Linked DNA regions of Homo sapiens: regions 1 and 2 are each linked to region 3. The links come from fine-mapping of genetic effects on gene expression. A gene starts in region 3. Each other region holds a variant in brackets. All regions are shown on one strand. Distances are from middle to middle.

The links. PIP is the estimated chance that this variant, and not a neighbour inherited with it, causes the effect.
Region 1: its variant is fine-mapped to the expression of TNFRSF19 in lung (TOPMed, PIP above 0.99).
Region 2: its variant is fine-mapped to the expression of TNFRSF19 in atrial appendage (GTEx, PIP above 0.99).

Annotation. Positions count from the first base shown.
Region 1 is chr13:23,510,985-23,522,223 of GRCh38, reverse strand. It overlaps LOC124903135 (a long non-coding RNA gene), which reads right to left. Exons shown (of 3, transcript XR_007063720.1): 2 at 1-553. Among named protein-coding and RNA genes, the nearest start is that of LINC00327, 47 kb to the right of the region's middle. The variant CT/T (reference allele first, on the strand shown) is at 6,297.
Region 2 is chr13:23,482,036-23,493,274 of GRCh38, reverse strand. It overlaps LINC00327 (long intergenic non-protein coding RNA 327), which reads right to left. Exons shown (of 3, transcript NR_038995.1): 3 at 5,811-7,040. Among named protein-coding and RNA genes, the nearest start is that of LINC00327, 18 kb to the right of the region's middle. RefSeq lists an enhancer at 282-782. The variant T/G (reference allele first, on the strand shown) is at 4,597.
Region 3 is chr13:23,565,142-23,576,380 of GRCh38, reverse strand. It overlaps TNFRSF19 (TNF receptor superfamily member 19), which reads right to left and starts at 5,969. Exons shown (of 10, transcript NM_148957.4): 1 at 5,533-5,969. RefSeq lists enhancers at 1,381-1,530, 2,001-2,170, 7,534-8,045, 8,046-8,558.

The DNA.
Region 1 (11,239 bases), 54 kb after region 3:
CTGAGACCAGTCTCGCTCCCTAACCAGGCTGGAGTGCAGTGGCGCAATCTCGGCTCACTGCAACCTCCACCTCCCGGGTTCAAGCAATTCTCCTGCCTCAGCCTCCTGAGTAGCTGGGATTACAGGTGCGTGCCACCATGCCCAGCTAATTCTTGTATTATTAGTAGAGATGGGGTTTCACCATGTTGGTCAGGCTGGTCTCGATTTCATGACCTTGTGATCTGCCAGCCTTGGCCTCCCAAAGTGCTGGGATTACAGTCATGAGCCACCGTGCCTGGCCCATTGGAGATGGTTTTCTAAAGGAAACTAGTAACGTGGACATGCGCTGTCAGCATGAGGGTCCATTTCCTTCCCCACATAGTCATGGACATTGTGGAAAAGCAAAGGCAGCTTGGTCCTGAGGCAACAAGATCCATGCAGGAACCATGGAAGACGACAGGCAAAAAGTGACGGGAAGTCCAGCAAGCCAGGAGGGACCCCAAGCAGGCCACTTGTGCTTTCCTAAAAGCCAGAGGCATATGGAAGCCAGAAACATTTCAGAAATAGGTTTGTTCTAAAAAAAAAAAAATGAGAGACAGGAATATAAATATATTGTAAAAGAGAAGCCCACAGAGATTTGATAATAACAGTGAATGTTTTTTGTTTTTTCTTTTCTTTTTTTTTTTTTTTTTTTTTTTTGAGACAGAGTCTTGCTCTGTCACCCAGGTCGGAGTGCAGTGGCACGATCTCTGCTCACTGCAAGCTCCACCTCCTGGGTTCATGCCATTCTCCTGCCTCAGCCTCCCAAGTAGCTGGGACCACAGGCACCCACCACCATGCCTGGCTAATTTTTTGTATTTTTAGTAGAGATGGGGTTTCACCGTTTTAGCCAGGATGGAAGTGAATGTTTATTGAATGCTCATTATGTACCAGGCAGTGATCCATGGTTTACATGGTTTAACTCACAGGTTATTTGTATCAGAACTACCTGAAGGACTTCTGATTTAGTGGGTCTGGATGGAGCCAGAGAATATGCATTTCTAATAGGGCCTGGGATGATGCTGTTACTTCTGGTTTGGGGACCATGTTGAGAATCACTGGTTTAACTAACGTAATTCTGAAAAATACCTATGAGGGGGATACTGTTATTATCAGCATTTTACACACAAGGAAACAGACGTGGAGGATTAAGTTGGAAACATACTCCCCATACACACTCACACAAATGAAGTGGGAAGGCTGGATTTAAACCCGGGCATTCCAACTCTGGTTTCCGGATTTTAAACACCACACCATACAGTGTCATATATAATTAGTTCCATCAGAGAAATCTTGTCCACCTAAGATAGGACCCTGACAGACTTATTGCCATCTAATATGTTTTTTTTCTTTCCTTTTTTTGTTTGAGACAGAGTCTTGCTCAGTTGCCCAGGCTGGACTGCAATGGCACGATCTCGGCTCACTGCAACTTCTGCCTCCCATGTTCAAGCAATTCTCCTACCTCAGCCTCCCCAGTAGCTGGGATTACAGGTGCCTGCCACCATGCCTGGTTAATTTTTGTATTTTTTAGTAGAGGCGGGGTTTCACCATGTTGGTCAGGCTGGTCTCGAACTCCTGACCTCAGGTGATCCACCCACCTCGGCCTCCCAGAGTGCTGGGTTTACAGGTGTGAGTGACCATGCCCAGCCATCTAATATCTTTTTAAAGATACTACTCCCAAAGGCAGAAAACATTTGACAGTTAGTGAAATAAACTATATTGGCAAATCTTGGTTATTTAAAAAAACAGTCATTGTGATAATTGTCTTTCAAAACAGTTAAGTTAGATACTAAAAAAAGGTAGATGGGAACCAAATGGTTGGTGAACCTTACAAAGCCCTCCAATTTTTCTGGAATTTCAAGGTTGAACCTTGAATGTGGATTATTGTTTGCACTGCATTTGAATGCTTTTAAAATCTATTTATGGTTTTCTGTCCTTGCTTCCTGCTGGGTTGGGCAGGTCAAAAAGTGTTATATAAATACAACAGGAAACATTTCCAAGTTAAATTTCATTATTATGGAGTCTAAAATCTAAGGCACAGTGGGCACGTAGAACTCATCTCAGATCTAACGATGGCTGCGGTTCCTAATGGAAATGACATGCAATATACTATATGTGGCTATCAGCACTTTAAGGCCTTAAAGCTAGAGTAAAGATAACATTAATCCATAGCCAAGTCAGTTCAGGAAATGAAGAGGAAAAACAAATCCAGATCAGAATGTCTAATGTTGGGTGGGTCTTCAGTACACCCTCTACAAGCCTCCTTGTCCTAAACTCTTGTCAAAGGGAAGAGCAACCTATGAAGAGGTTCATGTAGGTGCAATCATGAATTTAAAATGTCCCTGATAGCTTGTAATCGTTTCACAGCATCAGCTGCTGGTGATGAAAAAATGGAAATCATCATCTTCTGTCCCTTTGTTTTTTTTTTTCCTATTTCAAAAAACTGGATAAATTCCCCTAGCTGTGTAATTTAGAGTCTGATATGTGGTGTCAGGAAACTAACCTTCAGGTCCAGTCTGGACCAGGGCTTGCCAATCTCGCACTCCTGACATTTTGGGACAATAATTCTTCATTGTGGGGGGAATGTCCTGTGCACTGTAGGATGTCTGGCAACACCTGTGGCCTGGACCCACTAGGCAAAAGTAACAGCTGTTCCCAAACTCCAGTCATAACAATAAAAAATGTCTCCAGACATTGCAGACATCCCCTGGGGGAAAAGCATCCTCAGCTGTGAGAACCATTGATTTAAATCAATGTATCCTCTCTCTCTTAAAGTATTGCCACTAAGGATAAGGTCAAGCTTTACAGGCTTTGGAAATAATTATTAAGTAATCCCTTTGATTTTGTTTTTTTCTATCCAATCATAAGTACCTTCCCTTATCTCTGGGCCCCAGTCCTCAAATTTGGAAGGATTGTGTGAAATCCTGCACTCTAAACTCCCCGTACTTCAGATGAAGTTCGTGAAATAATATATTTGATATTAAACATATTTAATGGATAGAAAATAATGCAATAATGAATCAAAACTGTTTGAAAAGGGAAATAATGATTTATAGAAGGACTGTTGTTCTTAGTACCACTAAAAACAACAGCATTATAATTAGGTAACTGTGTAGCCATGTGCTTTCAGAAACTCACTAAACATTCATTGAAACCATGAGCATTTGATTAGTCTACACTAATCCAGTAACTCCATTTGCTAGTTTTTGCTTTACTGTGAGTGAATTGGGGCAGTTTGCTTATCTAGAAGCAGCTTAGTAAAGAATCAAATTAAAAATATTGTGAGGTGATTGAACTAAGGCAACGAAATGAGAGGGAAAATAGACAGTTATGAGAGATTTCAGGTACACATCAGAGCTTCAAAATGATGTGCGCAGCTTATTAGAGAGGATTTCTGTCTGGAGCAGGAAGGTAAATCAGTAGAAAGAGGGCGAATATACTCAGTTTGTGCACATTTTGTTTATTAACAGGAGAGGCATATTTGTGTGTTCAATGATGTATATTGATCAATATTTTAAATGAATCAACATTAATCATGTTTAGGAAGAGTAAATGACATGTTTCTGTAAGCGTTCAATTAAAAATTTCACTGTGCACTGATTCTTGCTGGCTGCAATGCTAAATACTGGGGCAAGAAGGCTTGTAGAGAACTCAGCTGCTGTAGCCAGAGAAAACTGCAGTGGTTTCACTAACTCTATCCCCAGAACTGGTGTTGTCAGGTTGTTATCTGGCAGCGCGGTATTATAACAAGTCCTTTATTTCTGGTACTTCAGGTATACTGAACGCCATTGACATGTTAAAGGATCCTATTACATCCAGGCTTCCAGTGCAACTGATTCAGCTTTACTGTTACTATTTAAGTAGACAAGAAGCTTAGCCTGCCCACAGAACTCCACAATAGGAATTATTCTATAAAGTGTTGGTATAAGGCAATGGTGTGAAGTGGGGAAGAATGGTCTTAAAAGTCACAACAGTTATGACTCTGACATTTACCAATTGTGAACTTCTCTGGATCTCAGTATCTTTTTCTAAGATAAGCATTGTCCTCACCATCATTATCATCCTTGTATTTGCTATCTCATTGGTAGACTTGAATGAGTTCAAGTGTAGGAAAGTGTTTTGCATTCTTCTAAGAACTATACAAACTCTGTTTCATAATAACAACATAATGATAACATACAGGTCACTTTTCCTTTTATTTTAAAAGTACCTACACACTAAGTTAACTTATATCATAATTTTGATTATGAAAACTCATAATTATAAGAAACCTGAGTGAATTTCTTTCTACTTTTAGGATTTTAATGTGAAAATGGCAACATGAGAAACGTATATAGTTTCCAAGGACCATCAGTTTCAGGAACTGCCTTTGCCAGCCTCCCTGTATGCCTTCACACCCAATACCCACCCCTCACAGGAACCCTGAGCACTCTCTTGCTTTGGAACCAAGGAACTGGTGCACGTGGGTGAGAAATAGTGTTGTAAGGGCAGAAGAGTTTTGCTCTGAGGAAATATGTCAAGTCAGTTTTTTTTTAAGCCTGCAAGAATATGTCTTTCTATGTGGTGGGCCAAAGCAGTGTTTCTGTCTACCGGTCTCATCCAGGTCCTTGCTCTGGGGTAGAATTATCCAAAAGGAGACAGGTGTCTCCCGGGCCACCCAAGACCAGCTCTTTGCCACCAGCAGCACAGGCTGGAGGGAAGAGGTGCTTAAAACGCAGAAGCCTGGAATTGGAATGGAATCACGTCTGCATTCTACTTGATGCATTTGTCCTGTGTTTAGTATATATTTAAATTGACTCCACTATATTCCTAGCTGCTTCTTGCATGTGTGTGGGATTTTAATCCTACTATTTTCTTTTGGCAGAATGGCCCTAGAGATTGCCTGCGATAGGTAGATTTTTTAAAACCCCACGGATTGCAAGAATGGGCACAACAGTGAAATAATCATAGAGTGTCTTAAACAAAATAATTACAAAATAAACAAATCCATACATCAAAGCGGCGGTAAAGATTAAACATTAAATGAAAGAACTGTGTGGTAAGAGAGTGCATCAGAAACCCTAGGTTGTACTTAGCTTTCATGAAATTGAGAATGATACCATTAAAGTCCTCAGCAAGATTCTTCACACTGTTTTGGCAACATGATTTAATTTCACCCCACAGCTACTAAATTACCCTTTGCTTCTTTTGAGTAGAGCAGGATTGTCCTGTACCATCTTGAAAAATTCTGAAGTAACTTTCCAGAAATTCTCAGTGAAATAAGATACTGTTTACTGGAGCTTTCCAATAAGATACTTCATAGCCTTTAGACAGCACTGCCTTTGAAATGAAACCAGTACGAATGTTTCCAAGAGATGAAGACTGTGATTGCAAACAGCTCATTGAATGTGTGTCTGTGATGTCAGTCTAGTCTGTCATTTGGAGATAATGGACTAAAAGAAAAGACAAACGTATCTCAGTTTTTAGATGTTTTTTCACTTGTGATGCATGCTCTCCAGACACATACACACAATCAAGCACTCACTTTCATGTTGCACTATGATAAATACATAAAACCTCCTCCACAAAGTCTTAGCCTTGCTATCATTATATCAATTTTATCCATGAGAAAACCAAGTCTAAAAGGGGGAACAACTTGCCCTAGGTACGCAGTAAGAGCTCAGTGGAGGAATAACACTCAGACATCCTTACCAGTCAAAGGCTCTCTGGAAGGCAAGACTAACCTTACTGAACAGATTCAGCCAAGAATCCTTCCACTGTGAACCTCTATTGTATTTGCGGTCTCTGGAGGCTCTTATCTTGGTTTCCCAGCAGGCAACAGCCAAAACAAAATCACTTCAGGATCTGAATCTCCCTGGACCTCCTTAAGACTTCAAAAGACACTAATGAATGCTAATGATTATGACCTTAACTGATTAAATCCAGTCACAGCTATGTAATACCCTACAGGTATTATAGTGAGGCTTTTAGGGAGACAGCAGCTTTTATTTTTCCTCTGCCCGTTGAGCTTTCTTAAACCAGTAAGTGGAACTAACCCATGCTGTTCTGAGTGAGTAGGTTCCGATACGCGCATTTGGTGTAGGGGGTCTTCTCAAGACGACCGTTCATCATAGTCCAGGAAGTCAAGAAGACCTGGCAAGAGAATTTAATTTCTATGTGTTGTACCTCTGTTTCCTCAACACCCAACTCATTGCTAGATCTCTAGGCACTTAACACCATTTCAGATATCTGCTCTCTCAACCTCCTCCTTCCTCACTGGAGGTTATAAACTGGCTTCC[CT/T]CCAGGTCAGGTAGGATCTGTTAGACCCACGTAGCCTTGGGCACACTATTTTTATTTTTTAAAACTTGAGTTAGTTGCTAAGATTTAATATTACATACATATCTGCATTCTGGCTTTCTCTGAAAACTCAGAAGCTTGGGGATACCGAGCAAACATTGTCTTGGCACCGAGTCCTGGCTGATCCCTCAGATGTAGCCAGGATCCTTCCTTCCCCTGTGAAATCTCGCCCTGCTGGCCCCAGGCATGCCCCCGCCCACGGGTGTGCATGTATTTCCCATCTCTGCCCTCGCAGCACAAGACACCAATGCCCTCTCCTTTTGGAAACCTCCTTTGGTTTGTCTGACATAGGGGCTCCACTCTCTAGTGGCCTCACTATTCTCTATCTGTCTGTGCCCTCCAGCAATGACATTTTCCTCTTTCTGCCATCCTTTAAATGCAGGAGTCCTCCGAAGGGGAAATCTATCCTTGATCTTCTCTTCCTTCTCTCTCTCCACTCTCCCTTGAAATCTCATATATCTTCACGATTTAAATTCACAATGCTCTGGAAATGATGTTTATATCCATTTGTCAATTCAACCAAATATCACTGAGCATAAATGCAAGGGTGAAAACAAAACACCCTTTCTTTCCTTAAGGAGCTCAGTGATACAGATATGTAAACAAACACAGTGCAATTTGATAAATGCTAGGGATAGTGGCACAACTCAATTGACTCCACACAAGGGGCAGCCTCTGAGCTGTGTTTTGAAGACTGAGTAGAAATTCACCATGGGAATAATGATAAACCTTACAGAATTTAGTTTCTCCTGTTTTAGGAAGCATTTCACACTGCCTGCTGTACATCTTTACTTGGACATTCCACTGGCGATAAAATTAAACACACCTAAATCTGATCTTCTATCTTCTTAACCACCCCCACCCCCACAATATTCCCACTCCAAACACCAGTTGTTTTCTTGGGCTTTCTTGTCGGCTACTGGCACCCCTATTCTCCCAGTAATCTCCCTGAGAGATATCTTTGATCTTTCTCTCTGATACTCAACCAGTGGTCAAATTCTGAGATTCTTCTTTTAAATGTCTTTTTTTTTTTTTTTTTTTTTTTGAGACTCAGTCTCGCTCTGTTGTCCAGGCTGGAGTGCAGTGGCGCTATCTCAGCTCACTGCAGCCTCCACCTTCTGGGTTCAAGCAATTCTCCTGGCTCAGCCTCCCAAGTAGCTGGGACCTCAGACACCCACCACCAACTACACCCAGCTAATTTTTGTATTTTCAGTAGAGACAGGGTTTCACCATGATGGCCAGGCTGGTCTTGAACTCCTGACCTCAGGTGATCCACCGGCTTCAGCCTCCCAAAGTGCTGGGATTACAGACCTAAATGTCTTTTAAATCCACATCTTGCAAGTTTAGGTCATCAGCATGTTTTGTCCAGCAGACAGCTTCAGCAAGTGGTCCTGTGAGTGCCTGACCTCTTCAGGGTGTCTCCCCTTCTGCACACCTGTCATGCAGCCTGCCTGGAGCTGGCTCTGAAAATGCCGACCCTTTGCTCTAAATGCTTTACATGTATTCACTTATTTAATCCTCACACTACTCCAAGTTGGCAGGGTTGTTATTATCCTCCCAGAACTGGTCCAAGTCTACACACCCAGTGGGTACAGGGCCAGGATCCCGGCCCAGAGAGTCTGACCGTGGAGGCCACCCACTTGCTGAGTAGCCTATGTTTGCAGGCCATGTTCTTGCTCAAAACTCAGTACAACCCCCCTTTGCCTCCAAACACCGTCTCAGTTTGTTAGAGCCTTGAAGGTTCTAATAACTTGGCCCTCAGCTAGCTCTTTCTTTTATGTCTTGGTTTCTTTTTCTTGTAGAGTTTATCCTGAGGATTTAGCGTTAACGCATCAGACACATAAAATACGGTGCTTAGTGCTTAGAAGGGGCACTGTTGGCTTTCCTTCTCATACCCAACCCTTGTCAAATTCTGAAGCATCTACTTTCAATGTCTCTTGAATCCACACCTACCTTTTCAGTTGGGTGGCTTTTGGTATTATTTCTCTCTGTTCTGCCTCACCAGGGGTAGGTTTTGGTAAAAAGTTAATTGCAGCTTCCCCACATGCTGGGGCCTCCCTTCTACTCTGACTGGCCATGCTGTGCTAGACTGGAATCTCCTCTTCATCCATTTGGACTGATGTAAATGCCCTCACCCTCACATGCCACAGATCTCGTCCTCTTTTCTGATTCTATTTCTGTTCTCTAGCCCTACAGTCAGCCAGAACAATCTCTCCCTCCTCTGTATTTCTAGACAGCTTTCTTTATGCTGCTGAGACTGTCTTACCTCATTCGGCATTTTAGTGGAACAGTTGGCTGTGCTCTTAATTGTTTCCCTTTCTAGATAATAAACTCCCCCAAGGCTAAGAGCATTGCTTGTTCATTCTTTTCTTCCTGCAGCTAAGTTCGGTGAATAGTATTTGGTTTATACTTCAACATTTACTGAATAATGTGGATACGAAAAAATGATATGTGGTCTTGATATCACCTGGATCATTCATTTGATAAACTTAATGCAAAATTTGAGTAGAAAAATTAGGCACCAATAGAATTAGTAAGGAAAAGGATAACATATATATCATATCAAACATTTATATTCTTGGTTTTTTTTTTTTTTTTTGAGACAGGGTCTCGTTGTGTCACCCAGGCTGGAGTGCGTTGGCAGAATCATAGCTCACTGCAGCCTCCTCCTGGGCTCAAGACATCCTCCCACCTCAGGCACTTGAGTAGCTAAGACAACATATCTATACCACCATGCCAAGCTAATTTTTAAAAACTTTTTGTAAAACATTTACATTCTTAAATATGACATTAAAATATATTACGAAGGAAATACTTCCTAAGGTATGTCATCTACAAATGTGATGAGAATCAATTGCATGATGTGTGTCAATATAAAATATGCTCTCTAATACAAGTTTACGGGATTACATATAAAATCTATATTCACCCTGTAGGTGAATTTAGGAACTGCACTAACAGAGCATATAGATTGTGTGTTTGGTGAGAATTAGGTTGGAGAAAGTAACTTTTGGGGATGAAATTGAGCTGCCTTCCCTGCTCTGTGAAAGGTAAATGATAGAAATGCAAAGGAGTGTTCGAACCGTAACTAAATAAGGTGGGGGTTAGTCTCAGAGCCTAGGAACCTGAGGGGCTGGGGCAGGAAGACTGTTCAGGTTCCCAGTGTAGCTCCTGCACAGCCTCAATGGTGAGCACAGAGGAAAGGCGGAGGGCGGGTTGGGCTAGGCTGGACTGCAGATGCAGAGAAGAGAAGGGAGCTGTGGGGGTGGCCACAGAGACTCAGTGTAGGCTTTGAAGCTGAAGGGGAAGATCCTGGAAGTGGTCCCAGGGCAAAGAGATCACTTAAGGGCTATCCAGTTTACCCAAAGACATCTTTGACCATCATAGAAGGGTGACGAGTGAGAGACAATTTGTCTGTTCTCCTACTGGAGTCTGAGAACTTAGACCTCTGGTGCTCTAAGTTGAAGGGAAGAAGATCACAGTCAGCTGTCTCTGTGATGGGGAGCAGAATGTCCAGTCCTTCCAGGATCATTTTTTCATTTGTAAAGTCAGAGTGATTTTAAAGCAAGTTGTGGGCATGTATTGGTGGCAGGTGAGGGGGGACGGTCTTTCCTGGTCAGCAGGCTGTGAGAGTGGTGTTCTCTGCAGCAAAGGAGGATCATGGCATTGAAGATCATCTTCAACCTATGGGTTCTCTAGAATCTGAATACTGGAGCCTGTGACCTGGGATTGATTTAGGGTTTATGAATTGGCATAGGAAGTGGGAGAAGCATTGGGAGGCAGAAAACCTGGATTTGAATCCTGGCACTACCCCTTTGTAGCTGTTTTACCAAAGTTTGTGAAAGTCCTTGGCACACTGCCTGGCACAGAGACTAAGGATTGAATATGGGTATCGTTGATTCTTTCTTCTCTGGTGCTTACAGTGTATTAGACTTCCCCACATTCTCTCTTGTCAAGTGGCAAAAATAGATTATGCCCAGTAAATAAAGACATAAATCGAGGCACAGAAGAGTTAAGAAGTTTGACTGAGATTATATAGGAGATAATCAAGTGGATCTTAAAGTGTTCAGAATTTCTATGATCATTTTTATTTACAAAGTGGCTAACATTTTTAGTTTATTCTCTACAATATGTCTCACAGTCCAATATTTCTGTTGTTAAATAATAACAACAGTGAATTGCTTTTGACCACTTTTGATTGCACTGGATCCCATCTCTAGGATGCAGAGACTAAGGTGGAGAATGGGATTTAGGCCAGCAAACCCAGAGCCCCCACTTTAATCCTACCAGACAGAGTGAGAGGAAGAGGGTGGGGCTCATGGAGTCAAGTTACAGATAGCTGGCCTCTCTGGGGAATGGCTAATGGTCTACTGCAGGGCTGTAGTCAACTTCAGGCATCTAGGGGAAGCAGATGGAATGAGGTGAGAGCTCCGAAATAGGACATTTGGGATTGTCAAAATGGCTAACACGAATCAAGTCTTTACAACCCAGTGTGTTGGAACCATTGTGGCAGGGTGGTTGGGATGGGGAAGAGGTGGTTCATTCTGGAAGTAACATAAATTGATATTAAATAAAGAGCCTAGTCATTGCTTCTTCCAGAAGCGATGGTCATGTGTTCCATGAGTCCCCACTGAGGTGACCTATGCTTTTCTGTGAATAGTACTTCTGCAAAAAGATTTTTGCACCACCTGCTGGCAAAGAACAGTGATCTTGCTGCTCATTGAAGAAAAGTCACACGCTTAAACTGCTAGTGAGCAAGGCACAGGGAGATCAAAACTGACTTTGGTGGGAACATGTAGCTACCACTCCTGCCTGGCATCCAATTCCTTGTCACCACCTTGTTAACAAGTTTTAAATTGTGCCAGGTGATACACACAGGTGGTTT
Region 2 (11,239 bases), 83 kb after region 3:
GAAAGTCATATTCCAGGGCTTGCTTTGAAGCCGAGAGAGGCATCATGTGCTCAGCCTAAAAAGAGGGGAAGAATGTCTGTGCTCATGAACAGACCCAGCACAACACCACGGTCTGGTTCTGTGCCTTCGTAACTGGCTTTCTCCCATAATTCAATTTCAGAGCCGGTTGAAGGACGATGTTAAATAGAAACAGGATTCTGAGGCTGGGCGCGGTGGCTCACGCCTGTAATCCCAGCACTTTGGGAGGCCAAGGGGGGCGGATCACCTGACCTCAGGAGTTCGAGACCAGCCTGACCAACATGGAGAAACCCCATCTCTACTAAAAATACAACATTTAGCGGGGCATGGTGGCGCATGCCTGTAATCCCAGCTACTCGGGAGGCTGAGGCAGAAGAATCGCTCGAACCCAGGAGGTGGAGGTTGTGGTGAGCCGAGATCATGCCATTGCGCTCCAGCCTGGGCAACAAGAGCAAAACTCTGTCTCAAAGAAAAAAAAAAAGAAAAAGAAAAGAAAAGAAATAGGATTCTGGAAAAAAAAAAAAAAACCCAAGCAAACAATAATTATTAGGCAATCATATCATAATCAAATACCATTCTTTAATTCTGATGGTTTCTTCATGAAAAGTTTCTGATATTTCATCTGAACTGCATTAAAATGGTCTTTTTCTAAGAATACAAGCATTTTTAAAAGTAGTTTCAAAAGTATAATTCCCATTTTAATGTAACACGCTCAGTTTTAGAAAGTTTATAGCTGTATGCTCCACATTTTATTTATTTATCTATTTTGAAAGAGGGTCTCACTCTGTCACCCAGGTTGGAATGCAGTGGCGCAATCTTAGCTCACTACAGCCTCCACCTCTTGAGCTCAAGCAATCCTCCCACCTCAGCCTCCTCCCACCTCAGCCTCCTGAGTAGCTATGACTACAGACGTGTACCACGATGCATGGCTAATTTTTTTAAGATTTTTTTTTAATAGAGATGGGGGTCTTGCTATGTTGCCCAGGCTGATCCCAGACTCCTGGCCTCAAACAATTTTCCCACCTTGGCCACATAAAGTGCTGGGATTACAGGCCGGAGTTGTCGTACCCAGCCACGTTCCACATTTTAGTTCTAAGGAAATGGAGGTACTGGAGCTGGAGTTTCGCTTCAACTCTATTACCAGCTCTTGGAAGTAGCTATTTCACGGGCACCTGGCAGTCAGTGTGAGCACAGAGGCTGCCTCCTGCCACTGGAGTATTGAAGTTCCTGCCATCTCTTTCAAGTTTGCTTTTATGTGTCTTCATGTAATAGCTTTGTTGTTAGTGTGCTTTAATAAGGAGGATGGATACTACTAATAGTCAATAGGTAGAATGCATGCTTCATCCTAGGCCCTTTTCTCACACTCTCTTGCATTTATCTCACTTAATCCCCACACAGACTTAAAAGCTTGGTGCTGTCATTATCCCCATATCACAGATGAGGAAACTTGCCCACAGTCCTGGGCTTAGTGACCGTGGAAGCTGGGATCAAACTTAGGTTGGCCCCATGGAACTTACCAACTTACTGACAGATTGCTGTTTTGATCCTTATGGCACCTCAAAAAACAGCCGGGAACAGCACAAGTTGTATCTGCCATGGTGAACAGAGGAAAGAGATTCTCCATCCCTCATACCTAATTCCACCGCAATCTCTCCTTTTATGTAGGAGAGATTGCTCCATTTATGTAAACCTTGCCATCAATGTTTACTTTATAAATCGGGCTTTCATTCTTTTGTTAAAAAAAAAAAAGTCCATACATCATTTCTCCTTTATTATGGGGTACATAACCCTAAAAGGATGAGATTTAAAAATCACCATCAAGTTTCATTAAATAAAAACATTTAGTGAGCAACCAGACTGCCCAAGAGGCTTGCAAGGATTTACATGCATTCCTTCACCAGTGACTTGATCCACTTGGAAGAGTTATTTTTATATCTACGTTACTGTTACTGCCATCTCTATTTCACATCCGCTGGAGAATACAGCTTTCCCAAAAGCCTGGGTTACAAGGTCAGAGAAATGGAACAAGTTCAAAATGTACAGCCTTAGAGACTATGTGAACACATATACCAAGACTTCATTTTTTTTTTTTGAGACGGAGTCTCGCTCTGTCGCCCAGGCTGGAGTGCAGTGGCGCAAGTTCAACTCACTGCAAGATCCACCTCCCAGGTTCACGCCATTCTCTTGCCTCAGCCTCCCGAGTAGCTGGGACTACAGGTGCCTGCCACCATGCCCGGCTAATTTTTTGTATTTTTAGTAGAGACTGGGTTTCACCATGTTAGCCAGGAGGGTCTCAATCTCCTGACCTCATGATCCACCCGCCTCGGCCTCCCAAAGTGCTGGGATTACGGGCATGAGCCGCTGCGCCCAGCCCCACCAAGCCCTCATTTTTGAAGTGAAATAAAGGAAAAGGCTTAAATAGCGTGAAAGCGAATGAAGTCATAATAAAACAGCTAATCTCTATTGAGAGCTTTCTCATAACCAAGGCTTTCCTAAGAGCTTTCCATGAATTAACTCATTTACTGTGTATAACAACCTTACTATTGACAGTCTGCCTTCAGATCCCAGCTTTGTGACCCAAGGCTTTGTGACTTGGAGCCACTTCACTTCTCTTGGCCTCAGTGCCTTCAATTATAAAATAGGAAAAATAATCATACCCGTTTCTTACCATATTTTATGTGTGCTCTCATTTAAGCTCATGGTAGTCCTGTGAGGTGCAGAGATGGAAGAGATGAAAGCTTGAAGGCTTGAGTTTCTGATAAAAGTTTAAAGGCCTGGAGTAACACCCCACAGCTAGGAAGTGGTGAGTCTAGTACCCCACCCTCACTGCACTTGAACCAGAGCGTGCACACTCCCAGCCACTAAGCATTCGCCTGAGTGGAGGCTGAAATGATCTGCTGTCTGCAGTAAGGCCACAGGAAATGCTCTTGGAACCTGGTCTCCATGAGATATCTATCAGGAACTTTTCACAACACCAGAAATGAAGGAAATTCTCATTTTTATTTTGATATATTATAAGCAAATATGTACGTTTTGGCACAATGAGAAATGTTTAGGAATTTTGACTAAAAAATTCTTTCTGGCAAGATTCTTTAGCCACTGAAATTTTAAGTGGTACTTACGGTTGTATGTATCTGACTCGCATCTGGGTGGCTACAACCAATTACCAACTACTGACAGCAAAAGAAAGACTTGCAAATATGATTTCACATCTGCATTTTTTATTTTATATTTAGCTCTTTGTCTTATCATGTTTGTCTAACTGTAGCTCTCTCTCTCTCACTGACAGGGTAATGTCTTTAAAATCTCACTACACAAAGTACTGGCTTTGTGAAAAGGCTCTGACCTATTTTGCCCTGCCTGGATTGGTTTTAACATCATGTAGATAGTAAGTAACAAACTCATTAAACCATTTCCATTCTTGTCTTAGGGGACAACGTGGTGCCCTCCCCTTTTACATGTTGCTTCTCTTATCAGCTTCACTGGCTTTGTCTACTAACCCCATGCCTGGGGAATTATAAGGAAGGGATTCGGGCACCGTGTTGTCTGCGGCATGAATCTTGCCAGGCTGTGGCTGTCACCAAGGTTATTGGACACTCCTCCCTGAGCAGGACCCACCTGGGAGGCATGCAGATGACAAGTGCCACTCAACCTTTTCCTCAGTGCCTGCTGGGCCCCGTGTGCATGTTCAGGTAATGAGAGGAACCTCGGAGCAAGTGGAGTAAGTGAGTGTGGTCACTCCAACAACAGACCAACCCATGAGAGGTCTGATTTCACGTTAAAATGGGAAATATTTGGTTGAATGGAATTGACGGAAAGGCAGGAATAGCCTTTCTCATTCCCTCATGGATAGAAAAAATGCACAAACCACGTTATCTGTTGGGTTGCATGGAATCGCTCTGACTGTTTTATTACCACCATTCACGTAGCATTTTATGTGAAAGGGAATGCTGGGCGCAGTGGCTTACGCCTGTAATCTCAGCACTTTGGGAGGCCGAGGTGGGTGGATCACCTGAGGTCAGGAGTTCAAGACTAGTCTGGCCAACATGTGGAAACCCTGTCCCTACCAAAAATAATAATAATAATAATAATAATAATAATAATAGTAATAAATTAGCCAGGCGTGGTGGCGGGAGCCTGTAATCCCAGCTACTGGGAGGCTGAGGCAGGAGAATTGCTTGAACTTGGGAGGTGGAGGTTGCTGTGAGCTGAGATTGCGCCACTGCACTCCAGCCTGGGCAACAGGGCACCACTCCGTCTCAAATAAATAAATAAATAAATAAGAAAAAAAGAAAGGGAATGCAGGTGTGAAAGCTTCCGATTCGTCACCTAGCAAAATTACACTGAAAAGTCCCCAAGCTCTTTGAACCAACTGCAAGGTCGTCAGCTTGTAGCCTCAAGTCCTCATGATCTATCCCATTACTTCATATCTCAAAAAGTCTTAATATGTGTTTTCCACAGTGATGGCCTCTCATTGGCCACCATGTCACTCTCACCTCAGGGTAAAGAGGTTGTGTCATGCGGCTTAAAACCTGGGCACATAGATGGTTACTTTGGCAGCGTTCTTATATAAACAGA[T/G]GAAGACAGCTGATAACATTAGCAACTTCCTGTGTCATCTCGTTTTTCTCGGGCACTTGCTTCTCTGAGATTATTTATGTTTTCTGTATTAGTCCATGGCAACCGCTTAACACAGCTGCACCAAATGTCATTCCCAGAAAGATCAGTTGCTTAGTCTCCTTGCCTCCATTCTATTTTGGGAGTGGCATGGACTTTTGGCGATGCCCAGTTGAGCTCTTGTCCACATCAAGTTATGAGCGGTGGTTTGTAAGAGAGTTTGCCCCTTGGCCTTGGTCTTTAGGAGAAAAAATAAATTCTATTCATTTACTCACATGCCATCATTACTCATATTTAAATTCTAAAAGATTAAAAACAAGAAACATTTTTTTCTGCATTAAGAAATCTAAAGTTTTAAAAAATCTCTAATAATGAACTGAGGTAATACATGCATTGATAAACAAAATGGAAATAGTATAGAAAAACAGAACTGATAAACTGATAAAAACATAACTGATAAACAGCTGCCTCCATTTCACACTTCCTCACCCTAGCAACTCCTAGATCATCCCAGAAAACATTTCTACTTTTATTCCTGTTGGTTGCCTACAGAACTCTAAATAATATATTTTCACATCTCTTCTTTGACCTTTTTAAAAATTAGCCTTTTTTTTTTTTTGAGACAGAGTCTCATTCTGTCACCCAGGCTGGAGTGCAATGGCATGATCTCCGCTCACTGCAAGCTCTGCCTCCCGGGTTCACGCCATTCTCCTGCCTCAGCCTCCCAAGTAGCTGGGATTACAGGTGCCCGCCACCACACCCGGCTAATTTTTTGTATTTTTAGTAGAGACGGGGTTTCACCATGTTAGCCAGGATGGTCTTGATCTCCTGACCTTGTGATCCCCCCGCCTTGGCCTCCCAAAGTGCTGGGATTGCAGGCGTGAGCCACTGCGCCCAGCCTAAAAAATCAGCCTTTTTTTTAACACAGCTTTATTGATGGGTAATGTACATATCATAAAACTCACTAAATGTGTAATGAAATGAATTTTAGCAAAGTTACAGAGTTGTGCAAGCATCCCCACAGCCCAATTTTAGAACACACCTATCACTTCAGAAGATCCCTCTTGACCACTTGCAGTGATTTCACTCTTCAGTCCCAGCCACAGGAATTCCTAATTTCTTTACTGGTTCTATAGATTTGCCTATTGTAGACATTTCATAAAAATGGAAATAACCAATCAAATTCAGACAATATTTATTGACTTTCTGATACAAAAGATAAAGATTTATCTCGCTTATAGAACTGCCTTCCCTGTCTCTATTTTCCCCAATTTTTGGTAATTATATATTATTTTAAAAATTCCTATGTTGGCTTTTTTCTTTTTCAGACGGTCTCACTCTGTCACCCAGGCTAGGATGCAGTGGCGTGATCTCGGCTCACTGCAACCTCCGCCTCCCGGATTCAAGTGATTCTCCTGCCTCAGCCTCCCAAGTAGTTGGAACTACAGATGCACACCACTGCGCCCAGTCAATTTTTGTATTTTTAGTAGAGACGGGGTTTCACCATGTTGGCCAGGCTGGTCTTGAACTCCTGGCTTCAAGTGATCCGTCCGCCTCAGCCTCCCAAAGTGCTGGGATTACAGGCATGAGCCACCGCACCCAGCCTATGTTGGCTATTTTTGTCATTTTAAGCAATATATTCCTTCTATTTGTGTGCGTGTGTGTGTTGTTCCATAAGCCTCTGTCAACGTCTTTTGCCTCCCTTGCTCCATATAAAATGCCTTACATTCCTCCCTCTTTTCCCCTACCCTTATTCATGGAATAACTGTGAATCATTGTTAGGACTTTATTGTTATGAAAGCCAATAATCTTTTATCTTTTATTCTACAACTACAATTAAGTCTTACATGTCTGTAGGTTGATTCTAAAAGTAGAAAACTAGAGCAGCCTTTATGATTTTGTCTACATTGCTCAATGTAGAGCCAGGGCTGTGCCAGGATGCCATTTCCTTCCCTCCATGTCCTGTGCATCTGTCATGGTGCTCCTGGGGCGATGCTACTCACTTCATAGTTAAGCAGGCTCCCTTCCCACATCCTTCATCAAATGCTCCATGTCACAGTAAAATAAGGGTCACACGTGAGCCATTTCTTTATACCTTGTTTTAGATGATTTTTCCTCTAGTTTTAGATGATTTTTTTATCCTTCCTATTGGAAAAGGATAAAAAATCTTAGGAACTTCCATTGTGTCCTAAAATTTATCTGCCTTCCAATCACACTACCATGTGAAGTCCTTCTTCCCCAGAGTCCTTAATTGTTCTGAATTTAAGTGGATTTTCTCTGGGCTGAATGCACAAGCCTTCAGCCTGAGTCTTCTGTTCACTGGGTTCCTGGAGCCAGTGCTAATCTCCAAAATGTGTCCTTTCTTGGTTTCCATCTTCTTTGACTGGAGTATAACCTCCAGTAAACTCCTGGGGAGGGGAAGAAAGGTATGAGAGAGGTGAATTTCCAGTATCGCATCAAATGTATTATTTTCTCTTTCATCATTTATTGTTTGTCTACACCTATTATTGAACTTTCAAAATTGTTTTCCCTCTGAATTGGAGGGTATTGCTTCAATGTTTTCTAACATTTTGTGCTGCTGATAAGAAAACTCTGCTGCAGTCTAGCTCCTGCTCCTTAGCTGCTGGGCTGTTTTTTGCCTTTGTAAGATTTTTAGGATCTTCCATTTATTGTTAGTTACTGTTCTGAAGTTTCACAAAGATGCATTTCAGGCTTCTTTATTTTTATCCTGCTTGGAATTCAACCTCAAGACATAACATTTTTAGTTCTGAGAAAAGTTTTTAAAAAATGATTTTACAAAAATCACACACAGACGCACAGATGATTTCCCTTCATTTCACTGCTCTCTCTTTTAAAAACTCTTGCTGGTCTAATATTAGATATCCTGGATTACTTCTTTCTTGTAGTTTTTAAAAAATATTTTCCTATCTCACTCAGGAAATATACTTTTTCACCTTGTATAAGTTATTTTTTATCAATTTTAAAATAATTTCTTTGAAAGATTTTTTGGGGGGAAGCAATCATATTTTTCATTTCCAAACAATTTTTCTGTTCTCTGATCTCTTTTCAAGACATTCTGTCCTGGTTTTTATGTTTTAAATGAAAAATTACTTGAATCAGATAAATTATTTAAATTCTCCTTTGTCATCTCTAATGACTCAATTCAATTTTCTTTTAAAGAATTACTTTATGGGGGGCTGGGAGGTGGCTCATGCCTGTAATCCCAGCACTTTGGGAGGTCAAGGTGGGCGGATCACTTGAGGTCAGGAGTTTGAGACCAGCTTGGCCAACATGGCAAAACCCCATCTCTACTAAAAATACAAAAATTAGCTGGGCATGGTGGCAGGCACCTGTAATCTCAGCTACTCGGGAGGCTAAGGCCTGAGAATCACTTGAACCTGGGAGGTGGAGATTGCAGCGAGCGGAAATCACGCCATTGCACTCCAGCCTCGACAACAGACTGAGACTACGTCTCAAAAAAAAAAAATTCTCATCTGTTATCTGAATATTTTTCTTTTTCTGGTTTTTTTCTTTTTCTTCTCTTCAAGGTCACTTGCTCTGTTTACTTTCTTTTTTTTCTTTTCTTTTCCTTTCTTTTTTTTTTTTGAGATGGAGTCTCGCTCCCATCATGTAGGTGGAGTGCAGTGGCATAATCTTGGCTCACTGCAACCTCCACCTCCTGGGTTCAAGCGATTCTCCTGACTCAGCCTCCCAACTAGCTGGGATTATAGGCATGCGCCACCACACCCAGCTAATTTTTGTATTTTCAGTAGAGATTGGGTTTTGCCATGTTGGTCAGGCTAGTCTCGAACTCCTGACCTCAGGTGATCCACCTGCCTTGGCCTCCCAAAGTGCTGGGATTACAGAAGTGTGCCACTGCACCCTGCCTGACTTTTTTCTGAATTTGTTTGCTGATCCTTTCTTTTGTTTTTCAAGGTCTTAAAAACTTTTCTTTTGAGCTATTGACAGCTTTAACAATTTAGTACACTCCTGTGAACAAAATTTGGAACACATTTGTTTCTCTCTACCTGATTTCTCCAGAATTGTAAAGTACTTGCGAGTATTCTTAACTTACAGCAACACAGTTATTTGCATAAGTGCAATAAGAATCTGTTTTCATTTTAACAGGATGCAATTGGAGAAATTGGTTCTTTTACCAAGGCTTTGACTGGAATGGTGTGCTTTCCTTTAAGGAATCAAACTTGACTTATAGAGCCAATAAGACCTTGGAAAAATTAGCCTCATATTTTGTGTACACACTGTATAGGGTTTCTGACCCATGGTAAGTAAAGAATGTCACTTACTGACAGGCACAGAAGTCCCAGGTTTATCTTGAAACCCTGACAGCAGGAAATTTCACCCAACTCATGGGTATTTGATAGCACAATCCATGGCTGGGCTGGGCTTTAAGAAGTCTTATCTGAGATTCCTCTTATGGAACAAAGTTCCATCAAAGCCAATTTAAAAGCCTATGTAAAAATAATAATTATTTTTGCTGCACTGCATACAAATACTTAGGCCAAGTATAATAACCAAACCAGCCCTACCATGATTTATCTTTAGTAAAATGGGGAACTGGAGAGAGAAAAAAATTATTTCAAAATGATTATATATCTGTTGTTAGATTCTAGTCTTGCCTAATGTTTTTTTCCAATTTTTATTATTTTCTACAGTTTGGACCAAATTCTAATTTTTCTTGGCTACAAGTCTTCAAAATAATGTTTTCAATTTTTTTCCGTCTCTTTTTCATTTTTCCTAATTTGAAGTCACTGAAAACTAAGTTGTTCTTCTTTAAAACCCTGCAAGCTGGCCGGGCGCGGTGGCTCACGCCTGTAATCCCAGCACTTTGGGAGGCCGAGGCGGGTGGATCACGAGGTCAGGAGATCGAGACCATCCTGGCTAACAAGGTGAAACCCCGTCTCTACTAAAAATACAAAAAAATTAGCCGGGCGCGGTGGCAGGCGCCTGTAGTCCCAGCTACTCGGGAGGCTGAGGCAGGAGAATGGCGTGAACCCGGGAAGCGGAGCTTGCAGTGAGCCGAGATTGCGCCACTGCAGTCCGCAGTCCGGCCTGGGCGACAGAGCGAGACTCCGTCTCAAAAAAAAAAAAAAAAAAAAAAAAAAAAAAAACCCTGCAAGCTGAAGACAGACAACTTAAACTTCGGCAGAAAATAACAGTAACCTGTTTACATACATAAGGCACTTTCATGCCTGCCTACTAATGTATGGACTTCAGAGTAATGTGGCCCATATCAAATTTTTTTTTTGAGAAAGGGTATCTATCACTCTGTCACCCAGGCTGGAGTGCAGTGATGCGATCTTGGCTCACTGAAACCTCCGCCTCCTGGGTTCAAGCGATTCTCCTTCCTCAGCCTCAGAAATTTGAGACAGGTCTCAGTCTCAAATTTCTGAGGCTCACACTCCTATGCAAGGAAGGAAGGCAACATGTTTTCTAATGCCACATGAAATTAAAGCACAAAATGAAACTTGGATGCTTGAAAGAACAGACTTTCTGTAAGTTATTGTGACATGCTCCATAGTTTATTGACAGCAGAGTTGGTGATGATATTGATATTACACTGTCAAAATGTATCACCAAACATCTTTAAATTTGATAAAAGATTGTGAATTTTTGTTTTCTATCAGGAGAAGACAACATATAGGAAATTCATGGATCCAGAATCCATTTCTTTCATCAAAAGATAATTTAAACTTAACTATAATTTATGGATAAATTATTGAATCTGACTACTAATGAACAGTAGAAGATGAATTTAGAAATATAGTATCATTTACATTACTTTGAATGAAAGTTTAAAAATGAATATTCTGAGCTTAATAAAATGTTTTAAAAATCTCTTCTTCCACCTTATCAACATAATTCTGTGAGGCTAGTTTTGTACAGTGTAGATTATAAAAACACAACATTAAAATAGGTGACAGTAGTAAAAATGGCAGATTAAGAACATCCAAAATTTTGTTCCTTCGTAACAGTAATGAAAAAACTGGCAAAGAAAAGCAGAATCCATTTTTTCAACTCTCTTGGCATTAACCAAAGACTTTCAGCCATCCAGGGAGCATTTATTCAAGAAAAATATCTGAATCTTGGTAAGAACTGTAATCTTTACAACATTTGAAACTTACCTTAGGCCCATCTCCCACTCTTCAGCTCAGCAATAGCCTAGAAAAATAACAACTGCATTCCAGTATTAAAGGATCAGAACAGAGCTGGAGCTCATTCAAAGCCTCAGTCCCAAAGAACTGACATTGTTTGATCCATCCTTAGAAGGCTCCACTGAAAAGGTACATTTTTACTTGATGTGGTTTGAACTTGCCAAGTGTAAAAAGTCTCTCCCAGGGGTTAAGAGGCATTTATTGAAAATAATTTTAGGCACGTCTTTTAACTATCAGGCTGCATGAGATGGATGATAGTGCAAACAATAGACTAACCAAGAAGATTAAAGGGAAAAGCTGTGGAATAAGATGTCCATAGGAGCTTTGAAATGCTCTGACATATTCCTGAGAATTTGGAAGGTCAGGGGCATATGTAGGCCTGTGGGCATTCTGAAGAAAGAGCTGAGGAGGCCTGAGCTCTCACTTCTTGGTGA
Region 3 (11,239 bases):
CAGGCGGATCACCTGAGGTCAGGAGTTTGAGACCAGCCTGGCTAACATGGCGAAACCTCGTCTCTGTAAAAATACAAAAATTAGCCAGGCATGGTGGCAGGTGCCTGTAATCCCAGCTACTAGGGAGGCTGAGGCAGGAGAATTATTTGAACCCGGGAGGCAGAGGTTGCAGTGAGCCAAAATCACGCCACTGCACTCCAGCCTGGGGGACAGAGCAAGACTCGGTCTCAAAAAAAAAAAAAAAGAATTCTGTGATCCTTAGGCTCATGCAAAATGAAACTGGATGCTTGTAATTAGGACTGGGAGCATTTTACTTCCTTTAAAACACTGCATATCATTAATGGGTTAAAATTTTTACTGGAAAAGCAAAATTGCTATGACAATCTTGATAGAGGTGTTTGTTTTTAAGATTTATGTTAAAAGTTAGTTTTCTGAAGATAGTTTTAGCAATATCTGAGCTGACACAAAGTGCATTTGTTTAAAATATTTTTCCCCAAAAGTTGAACTAAGGAAAACTTGAAAAACCCCTGAAAGAATAGTTTCAGTGATAAATTAGCTCGCTGGTAGCAAAGCTAATGAAAAATTGCCTAACTTCTAGTCATTTCTAGTGTAAATCACTATTCCTTGGGAAAAAAGTGGAATAGAATGCAAGCTACAGGAGAATATGAAATTTTGTCTCTTTGGTTTACAGTTTCTGGCACATAGTAAGTTCTCATTAAAAATTTGTTGGATGAATTAGTAATTGAGAGTGAGAATCTCAAAGAGTAATAAAGTTTTCCAAATACAGTTAAGAAAATAAGTGGAGGAGGAACCCCCAAGACCTAGCTATTTAAGTAATTCCCGATACCCACTACTGCCAATTATAGACTATCAGCATGGGGCTGAGGGAGCACCGTGAGGCCAATGCCCAGTGACTTCCTGAATGCTGCACACCAAGTTAATTAACAAAGCTGGAATCAGAATCTGGGCTTTCTGTATCTTAACATAATCTTCACCATACCATGGGTGCGTAAACCAATATATATGAAAAACCCAAGGAGGCTATTTTTATAGCCCCCTCCTGTAAGTGGAGCTCAAGACACTTACAGAGCAAAGTTGTTACAAGTTGCAGCACTTGCACTGATCTTTGTGAGTTTGGCCCTGAGTACCTCATTGGCTAGACCCTTTTCATGAGTTCGATGAGGGAAGAGACAGTCCATTGACTCTCCTTCTCTCCTTCCTGATGAACATGGTGGACTCCCCGACCTAGGGCTGGCTTGAGGCCAGGCTGGCTGGGCAGCAGCCCATGGTGCTAAGCTATAGAGCCACCAAAGAATGGGGGGCATTTAACAGGATGGAGAAAACTATCTTTATCAGAACTCCTCTCAAAGACAGTGGGTTATGTTGGAAGGAATGGTTTTATGAAGTCATTGGAAACCCCCACATGACTTCTCCTTCCCCTTCTCATCAAAGAGAAAATTTAAGTCACAAAGGAGGGTTTTAAACTACCTACTTAATCTAAAGAAGTGAGTATTGATTTTGGCAAGTGGGTGGGTTTGAGGTAACAACTTTGGAGCCAAAGCTGAATGACTAGTGACAGTAGAGGAGAAATTAAAGCACAGCCAACACAGCCACCAGGGAGCCTCCCTCTGCCCTCCCATCACAGAGCTCACCCAGGTGGACAACGTTTTAAAGAACCATCCTTTAAAGGGGACAAAATCACTCATTCTTCCAGGGTGGCTTGGACTGGCCTTGCCATCACAGAAAGAGAATCCGACTAAACCAATGCCAGATGGTTGAGTTCAGTTCACTCCTGAAGCAGAGGGAGAACAGATTATGCCTTCATGGCTTAGGGAGGTCCTTTATGGCCATCCTGACAGAAAATACTATTAAAAATGTCTAATAGTTCTTACAAAATATATAAAAGGAAAAAAAAAAACTGGAGCCCATATTTTTGGCCAAAATTTTGGCTATAATGTTTGCTGACAGTCAAGTTCAGCTTTGTGTAATTCTTAAAAAGAATGAATCACCTAGCCCCAGAACAAAAAAAATGTAGATCACAATGCTGCCACTGAATTATTCCTATAATCTTGCACATGTTATTTATCCTTGCACAAGTACTTGATATTGAATTAATTGATAATGAGTGAATTAATAAATATTAGGTCATGTTAGTAATAATCTTGTATATGTAGGAATCCTAAAGAGGGTGATAAGCCCTATTATGAGGGCAGTTGTTTGGCCATGAGAGTCCTGTATTTGTATAAAATTTTATTAGTAACTAAATTAAAATTTTTCACACAAGATATAGATAGATAGATTTTTTTTTTTTTTTTTTTTGAGACAGAGTCTCACTCTGTCACCCAGGCTGGAGTGCAGTGGCGCCATCTCGGCTCACTGAAAGCTCTGCCTCCCGGGTTCACACCATTTTTCTGCCTCAGCCTCCCAAGTAGCTGGGACTACAGGCGCCTGCCACCTTGTCCGGCTAATTTTTTGTATTTTTAGTAGAGATGGGGTTTCACCATGTTAGCCAGGATGGTCTCGATCTCCTGACCTCGTGATCCGTCTGCCTCGGCCTCCCAAAGTGCTGGGATTACAGGCGTGAGCCACCGCTCCTGGCCCCAAGATATATTTTTTCAAGGAAGAAAAGCAAAGAGATAATGAAAACATGCTCAAGAGTCTTAACATAATCAAACATGATATGAAACACATATCATATCATGTTTGAAATGCACATTGAGTTTGTCAACTGAAGTTTCACAGAATCCCACTGGGAATTTCCCTGGAGGAAAATTAACCTTTAATTATTAAACTGTTTTTGGATGCCACTGGCATCATCTAAGAAAATATCAATTCCTTCAAAACACACAAATATGTGTTGATATAATGCCAAACTCGTATGTACACACACACACAGAGGCAAACACACAAATACATATATAATTCCACATCACATTGATGCATTAAACTTTTTGTGAAAATTATTTTACGTGTTAAATTATGTTAAATTATGGGTAGCAGCTACTGTGTTTAGACAGCTTAGAAGTCCAGAAGTAGAAGGAACAGTTGGAAAATAATCAGACGAATCCAGCTGACTGACATATCTATCATGGAAACAAAAAAAAAATGCACTACAATAGGAAGTGGCTGTCTTTATTTTTCAAACTAATATTGTTCTTTGATGAGCTACAGAGTGCATTTGTTTAAGCAGTTGTTGGAAAGCAGACCCTGCATGGTAGACTGGAAAGAACATTGGACTAGAACTGGGAAAATCAGCCATGTGACCTTGTTAAGATAGGGACATTCGTTTTCTATAGCCTCAGTTTCCTCATCTGTAAAATGGCCATAAAAATTCCAATTCTGCTTATTTCATAAAGATGATGTGATCAACTCCCTCACTTCACACATGAGGAAACTCTCTTGAGGTCATATAGCTAATTGGTGACAGTATCAGGACTCAACATAAAAGTCTTTTGAAGACTTGGACTTTCTGTAGTAACAAAGCTGCCATTGAAGCAACAGATAGGAAAGTGCTTTGAAAAATGTCACATAAGGGTTTTGTTCAGTAGAAGTAATAGGACTATATCTGCCAAAGTCATTTTGTGGCAATTAATTAGGAAATGCCTTTTGAGACTGTACCTGTACCTTCAGATACAACCATCTTTATTTTAAAATCAAATACACTCTATTTCATTTCTCAACAATGACACTAGAAGTAAACAATTAACTGAATTAATTCAAACACTGAAGTGGATTTTCAAGGACTTGACTTGCCCAAGCTAGTTTTCTACAAAGCCTAAATTAATCAGATAATTGCTAATTCTCCCCTTTGTTTTGTGCTGAGGAGAGCCTGTATTTGTTAAAATGATCCTAGTAGCAGGATAAACAGTCATTTTAAAAATTTTAAAATCCAAATCTGAACTAAATGAGCAAGTTTCAGACACACTATTTCTTTAGGCACCATCTCCAGTCATTGTTTTAAAAGGCTAATTTTCTTTATCTGAATGTGAACATTAATACCACTTTTGTGATTAAAAGGAAGATTTTAAGCAAACAAATTAAAAAAAAATCAAACTAAACCGATATTGCAGGATATTGTGAACATGATTTGTTGTACTCTTAGAAAAAAAAAGCAAATGCCTCTCCTGGCATGACTAAAAACAGCAGTTAAATCTTTAAGATTAAGTTATTAATGACACACTTTAAAAATATAATCAGTTTAGCATGGCTTTAAATAACCTCCACTTAACAACTAGCAAAGTTTTAAAATTAAATAAACAATGCTAATTACCCTTCTAGTATCAAGAGGAAAGTGTAGAAAGTAATTTAATTAATTGGCTGTGAAAAATTAATTACTTATGAAATGAGACTCATTAGACCTTTCCTGTTTCATCAGAATTTCAGACTAAAGGATAACTGGTCTTATCACTTATGGTTTCTTTATGGTTCAGCTAGCATCAAATAGACTTGTGATAATAATTAAATATTTTGCCCAGATAAATTTAGGACTAGAACATTAAAAAAAAAAACATCGCGAACAAAGTAACAGTGTTACTTTTCCATTGTATTTAGTTTTTATATTTCACTGTAAAGATTTTACTGTGTGTGTGTGTGAGCGTGAGTGTGTGTGTATCATGAACTGACAAAAAAATAACAGTTAACTTTCAAATTCGGTACAGCAATATAATTTGGTTTTGTCATGTTGGGCATTAGCTAAAGTGAAAATGTGACTAAGATACTTTATGTAACATAATAACTGTTGATTACTCAGATAGTTTTCATAAACAGTTGGCAAATTTTGACTTAAAACAGCTGTCACTATAAATGTAAAGTAAATGTTAATTTAGGAATATTAACCTTGTGAATGTTTCTGTAAATAAGGCTTATGCTATTTCCAAAGGTTATAGAAAATCACTGGAGTATTTTTAGCCAAACTTAGTGCAACTTTATCCTCACTGTTTTTAAATTCTTCAGTTTTACACATAAAAGTCTTTAATCATACTTGATGGTTTTTCAGTGATTCCCTTGAGTGTACAAACTGCATAAGGAAGTGTATTTGATAGATTTACATCTTGGAAGTGAGAGAATAAATAAACTAAAGAAACAGTATTGCCAGAGATACATTTTACTCTTTTATATAAGAAAACAAAGAAAGCATTTTCAACAAGCAAAGTTGCACTGACTGTTTACTAAATAAGGTAACCTGTAAATACTTAGAGCAATTATAGCTCACAGATCTCAGGGGTTGAAGTACCAGTTGCATGCTAAAGTGAGCGCTGTTCTGTTTTGTCCTGTTTGTACAACTCATTTCCAAGTAAAATTTGTATGACAGACTGCAAACCCTCTTGTACAAACTACTAAAAATTACATCAAGTTCCATAGTTACTCTGATACACACATTCAGCATCATGTAGTATTCAGCTGTATAAATGCTTTCTAAAAAATTAATTAAAACCATTCTTTTCTCAGAACACATGCGAAAAATGCAGTGAAAGCTATAACAAAGCTTAAAACAGAGTACCTGCAACATGCTGAGCTCTTTGCAGTACTTACCCGTTCAGCAACTTAGTTTCTCCTGGCAGCACTTCTGTGCCAAATGCTTCTACCTTCCCAAAAATGTATGTCAGCACAAGCCCAGACGAAACTTCAAATCCAGGAAAATAAAATTAACCATGCAGATCAAAGGCAGACGAGCAGGGAGATGAAATGCCTGTAATCTGATCAGTGAATCAGTTGCTGAACATCAAAGGCAGGGCTGAGTTTATATATATGCATGGATATCAAAGAAAGTTCACTTTCAGCAGGTAGTTACCCTCCCACCTCCTAGTCCACAGACTCTTTTGTTAAACATGGATCACGTTGTTTTCCTCCTCTTTTTTGCAATGAGGCAATGCTGGTAGTTCTCCCATGCTTGGGCTGAGTGGCTGGATCTGTAGCTTTTTTGGTTCCCAAGCTGTGTTGTGGACTGTGTGTTGGAAGCTTTTCCTAGTGCCAGCGGGTTCTGCTTTATCCCTTTCATCTCGCTGAACTGCAGATCCCATGACATCATTCAGCGCCGTGGGACTGGTAGGAGAGCTATAATTCAGCCTGTGGGGGAGTATAGCTCAAGAGAAGCCAGAGTTTGGCTGATTTCTAATCATGTTAGACTATTGTGCCTCACACAGGACAGTTTCTGTTATCTGTCTGCCAGCTGGAAAGGACAGCAACTGCTGCTGGATGCTTCTTGGGTGATAAGATCCCTGATGGATGGACGTGCCAAATGACAGCATTTAATTGCCTCTTCGCTGATAAAAATCACAATTTCCTACAGAGACTGGGTGTCAAATATTCAGCATAGTTAAATAGCACTATGAGACCACTCTAAAAAACACCCAAGGACACTGCCAGATGGACCGATAACATTTTCACATTTTGATTCCAGTTTTCAAAGTGACAAGTCTTTAAGGATTTTAAGGAAACTGCCCTTTCTTTGAAACATACATTATTAGGATCTGATTACCAATCAAACCGGGTTGTGTTAAGTAGTTAAGCAGCAGATAACCAACAATTCATGAATAAACTGCCATCTTCCACTGGCTCACTTAAGACTTTGGGCGGAGACTTAATCTCAATCTTTGCCTTAGTTCGGGACTCTGGAAATTAGATTTTAAAGCAATATCTACTTCTTAGACATATTTCATTAATACTTGTTGAGCATTTTAAAATTCACAAAAGAAGAATTATGTAGAACAAAGCATTTGCCCTGTGATTATTCCAAAGCCATGTTATTTGCCTTTTAGGGCTGTTTCTTCCGAACTCATAGTTTGGACTTTCAACTCACTAAAAAATTACCACCTTAGCCTAATTCTTCGTATTTTAAAATTAAATATATTGCTCATTATTTAAAAATTTTAAGCTATTTTCCTTAACAATGTCAGATTCAATACAATATGATTATTTTATTTTGAGTATTTAGTAAAATAGAAGATAAGAAGAAGTTTCATCTTCCTTGAAATCCAGGATATGGTGCTTTTCTGATTTTCAGACAGTTCTTTCATGGAATGAAGACAATTTTTCTATTTTATAATGGAAACTCACTAACTTTTAGAAAGTAAGTTAAAAATATTTTTGCAAAACTTAGGGGATAGTAGAACTCAGTCTTTTTCAATGTAACTTCCCTCCTTAACTGGTTTTGTCTAATTTTTCCTGACGCGATATTTGAAAACGTTATTTATGAAGTGTTTATTTCCAGATTTCTATGATTCTTGAATAATTTTAATAGCAAAATATTTAGTTTGAACTGTTCATAAGTTCTGTATAACATTTAAATAGTCCTGTTGATTTTTCCATGTTTCTTGTATAATTTTTCTACTTATACATCATTTCTCAAAAATGCACAGGGCTCAAATAGTATTTGAACTGGCAGGTGTGATGCTTAAGGACTTCCTTAAAGCAGACCAGGAAAATTCCTGTGACATCTGGGCTTCACATACGTTTCCTGGGCATCTTGAACCCATGAATACAAAGAAAATATTTACAAAGACAAAATATTTACAAGAAGGCATGTGCCCATTTCTTTTCTGAGGTAGTCCAAACCTACCACCAGCATGGAATCCATATGCCAACAGCCTGCACTCAGGATTAAAGTTTCCCGATACACTGATATATTAAATCAGAGCAACTAGACACTCTGTAAGGCTCATTGGCTAAGCAAGTAGATTTTATGTCTTTATAGATTTCAACACCAGTAGAAATAGGTGAAGGACTGAATTCGGGTTCTTGTGTTCCACTGAAAAACATACAGGAGGCACTTGAAAGCAGGGACTTGAATGAAAACCAATCAAATGATCTTCAATTTATACAAATCTCCCCAAGCAAGCTTTGTAGTTCAAGATACATCCAACAATGCAATACCATCTCCAGTGGAAGAGTTTATTCACCAAGTCACTGGATATTATTTTGAATTGGTCCTCTTGTGGCCAAGAACTCCCCATATGTGAGATGAAAGGGGACTGAGGCTAGGGCCCCATCTGTCGCCTGGACCAGAGTGTGGCTAAAGGTCGGCCTGGCTGCAGGAGTGACCTCTTGACCTGCGGCTCATTTAGCACTGTGCCCAGCCAGCCGAGCCCCCTTCGTTGTGAGGTGTGGCCTGCACCATTGTTGTTTCTGAACAGCACCAGGAAGGGGAGCTACTACAAAGCTTTTCTCTTTCCCCTTCAAGAAGCTTAGATTAGTGTGATTAAATCAGTGTGATACAGTGGTGATAAGAGATCCAGCACTCCACTCGACATCATTGTCCGTTGTCATGACACCAAGTTACAGCATTTGATCAATGGTTCCTGTGCCATGTTGCAGTACACTTGGCTCATCTTAGTCTTTTTGTCAAGCTGCCTTTCAGCGACCTGGTTCTGCAAAGTGGTTGTGGCAGCCATTGGATCCACAGTGGGGAGCTCCAGGCTACACTTTAAAAGAAGTGGTCAGTGTTTGAGATGACGGGCATGCCAGTTACCCTGATCTGATCACTATACCTTATAGGTATAGAAATGTCACTAGGTGCCCAGGGATATGTATAATTATTATTAATCAGTTAAAAAATAAAATAAATGATTGAGAAAACTTCAGTTGTTCATATCCAAGAAGGGAGGGGCTGCCTGAGATTCCTGATGGGGAGTGGGGTCTCATGTCACCCCCAGTCGCCACCATGTGCTATTTTCTTCCCAAAACTTGGAGCGTGGTTCCTTTGCTCCTTTATCTTGACAGGTGGATGCCATGAATTCTCACCATTTTAAGATATAGATCAGGTGATAACACATTTTCCCCATAAAGTTTCATAGTTTTTTGAGTTGTCTGCATGTCTTTTCTAATGCCGTCTTTTCTAACTTTTCTGTTCAGAGGATATATCCTGGATTAGATCAGATAAACACAGATCTATTACATACATTGAGAGGAATAATTTCTGCATTTGTTTCAACTGAACACTTTTTAGAAAATGAAATAGCTCATGGTTATGAAAAGAACACGGATGCTGGAGTCAGAAAGGCCTATGTTCAAATCCCTCTTACTACCTGTACTTGAATAACAGCTTAGGCAGTGTGGACGAAGGCTACCTAGTCCCACTGAGCTTTTTAATCCTAAGCTGCAGGAAGGGGATAACACCTACCTCATTAGTGTTGCCAAAATAACAAACTTATTTCGAAAGCATCAGGCAGAATAAACCCTCAACAGAAGAGCTAAGGTTCCTTTCTTTTCTCTGTAACTATTAAAATGCCAACATTTTAGCTAGGGGATCCAATTCAAACTTCAGTATTCTAAAGGGGCAGGACAGGCTCTCACACAGCTCCTGGGCTGGTTATTCAAAGCCAAGGTAGCCCAGACATCCTCAGGTCCTTCACAATGCTGGGACCACTTGTACATGATCTGGGACCAGTAGCTGCTATCTGGGACTGTGGTCCACATAATCACAGAAAGAAAAAGGCTCAAGCCTGTTATGGGTTGGATTGTATCCCCCTAAATTCCCATGTTGATGTCTTGTCTCCCAGCACCTCAAAACATGAGCTTATCTGGAGATAGGGTCTTTACAGGGGTAATCAAGTTCAAATGTGGTCATTAGGGTGGGCCCCAACCCAGAATGACTGATGTCCCCATAAAAAGGGAGATTTAGATAAAGAGGCAGACACTCATATAGGTAGAACACTGTGTGGACATGAGGATGACCATCTACAAGCCAGGGTAAGAGGCCGGGAACAGACCTGTCCCTCACAGCCTCAGAAGGAACCAACCCTGCTGATACCTTGATCTCTGACTTCCAGCCCCCAGAACTGTGCGAGGACATACTGCTGCTGTTGAAGTCTGTGGTACTTTGTTATCACAGCCTCAAGAAACTAATACAAAGCCACTATCCAACAAACTACAAAGAGGTACAACTCCCATTTTCCTACATATTCTGAAGCCTTACATTCTCCTCATCAGCATCTGCCTCCTACAAAGCACCCCCAGCTCCAGTGGACACCCCCTGCCCTTCTGGACTCCCTCCGACCTCGTGAGCAGAAGACGCCTTCCTTTTCTTAAAGGGCCAGTTCAGGGGTACTGTTCAGTGAAGCTGAGTATGACTGAAAGTCACTAAAGGTAACTGGGATAGAACCCAGTTTCTGGCTACTGTAAATAAAGCTGCCATGAACACTTCATGAACCTGAAAGAGCCAATCCTTCCAAATGGATCCTGAGTGGCTAACTGGGTCTAAATTCAGAATGGAGCCAGGTCACAAACGTCTTCTGCATTCTCTGAGAAACCACAGGCTCGCGTGATTTGGGGACTTTCATGGCTGTCTGCTCCTATTTATGCTCCCTGATTTGATGGGTGCTGGGAAGTCTCATCTTGACTTCTGGATCTAACAAATAGACTTGTGACTTGCATTGACCAATCAAAACCAAACATACTTGCATCCCTCTCACTTGCAGAGCAGACCAGAGTGGGAATCTGGGTGGGAGCTTTTTCTATAAAGGATAACCTGTCTCTCTGTTCTCAGGGAGAGCATCTTTGTTTTGTACTGAAGGCTGGGTCTCCCTGGTTTGCAAACTGCTTACAGGAATAAAATCATTCTCTTTTTTAAGGAAGATCCTTTTCAGTGGATTTGTTGATAATACTTGTGTACAAGTCTTAGTGTGGATATATATTTTCATTTTTGTTAAGTAAATATGTAGGAGTAGAATTTCTGGATTATATGGTGTATGTATGTTTAACTTCAAAAGAAACTGCTGGCTGGGCGTGGTGGCTCATGCCTGTAATCCCAGCACTTTGGGAGGCCGAGGTGGGTGGATCACAAGGTCAGGAGATCAAGACCATCCTGGCTGGCACGGTGAAACCCCGTCTCTACTAAAAATACAAAAAATTAGCTAAGCGTGATGGCGGGTGCCTGTAGTCCCAGCTACTCGGGAGGCTGAGGCAGGAGAATGGCATGAACCCATGAGGCGGAGGTTGCAGTGAGCCGAGATTGCGCCACTGCACTCCGGCCTGGGCAACAGAGAGAGACTCCGTCTCAAAAAAAAAAAAAAAAAAAGAAACTGCCAAATTGTTGTCTCAAGTGTTTGTTCCAGTTTACATTCCTGTTGGCAATATAGGAGATTTCCATTTGCTCTACATCCTTGGCAAAACTTGATATTGTCAATTTTTGTCATTTCAGCTATTTAAATGCAGTCTAATAGTAGCTTATGATAGTTTAAATTTGCATTTTGTTGATGCTAGCACTCAATTTATATATAGAGAGACACTTTACTTTTTAGAA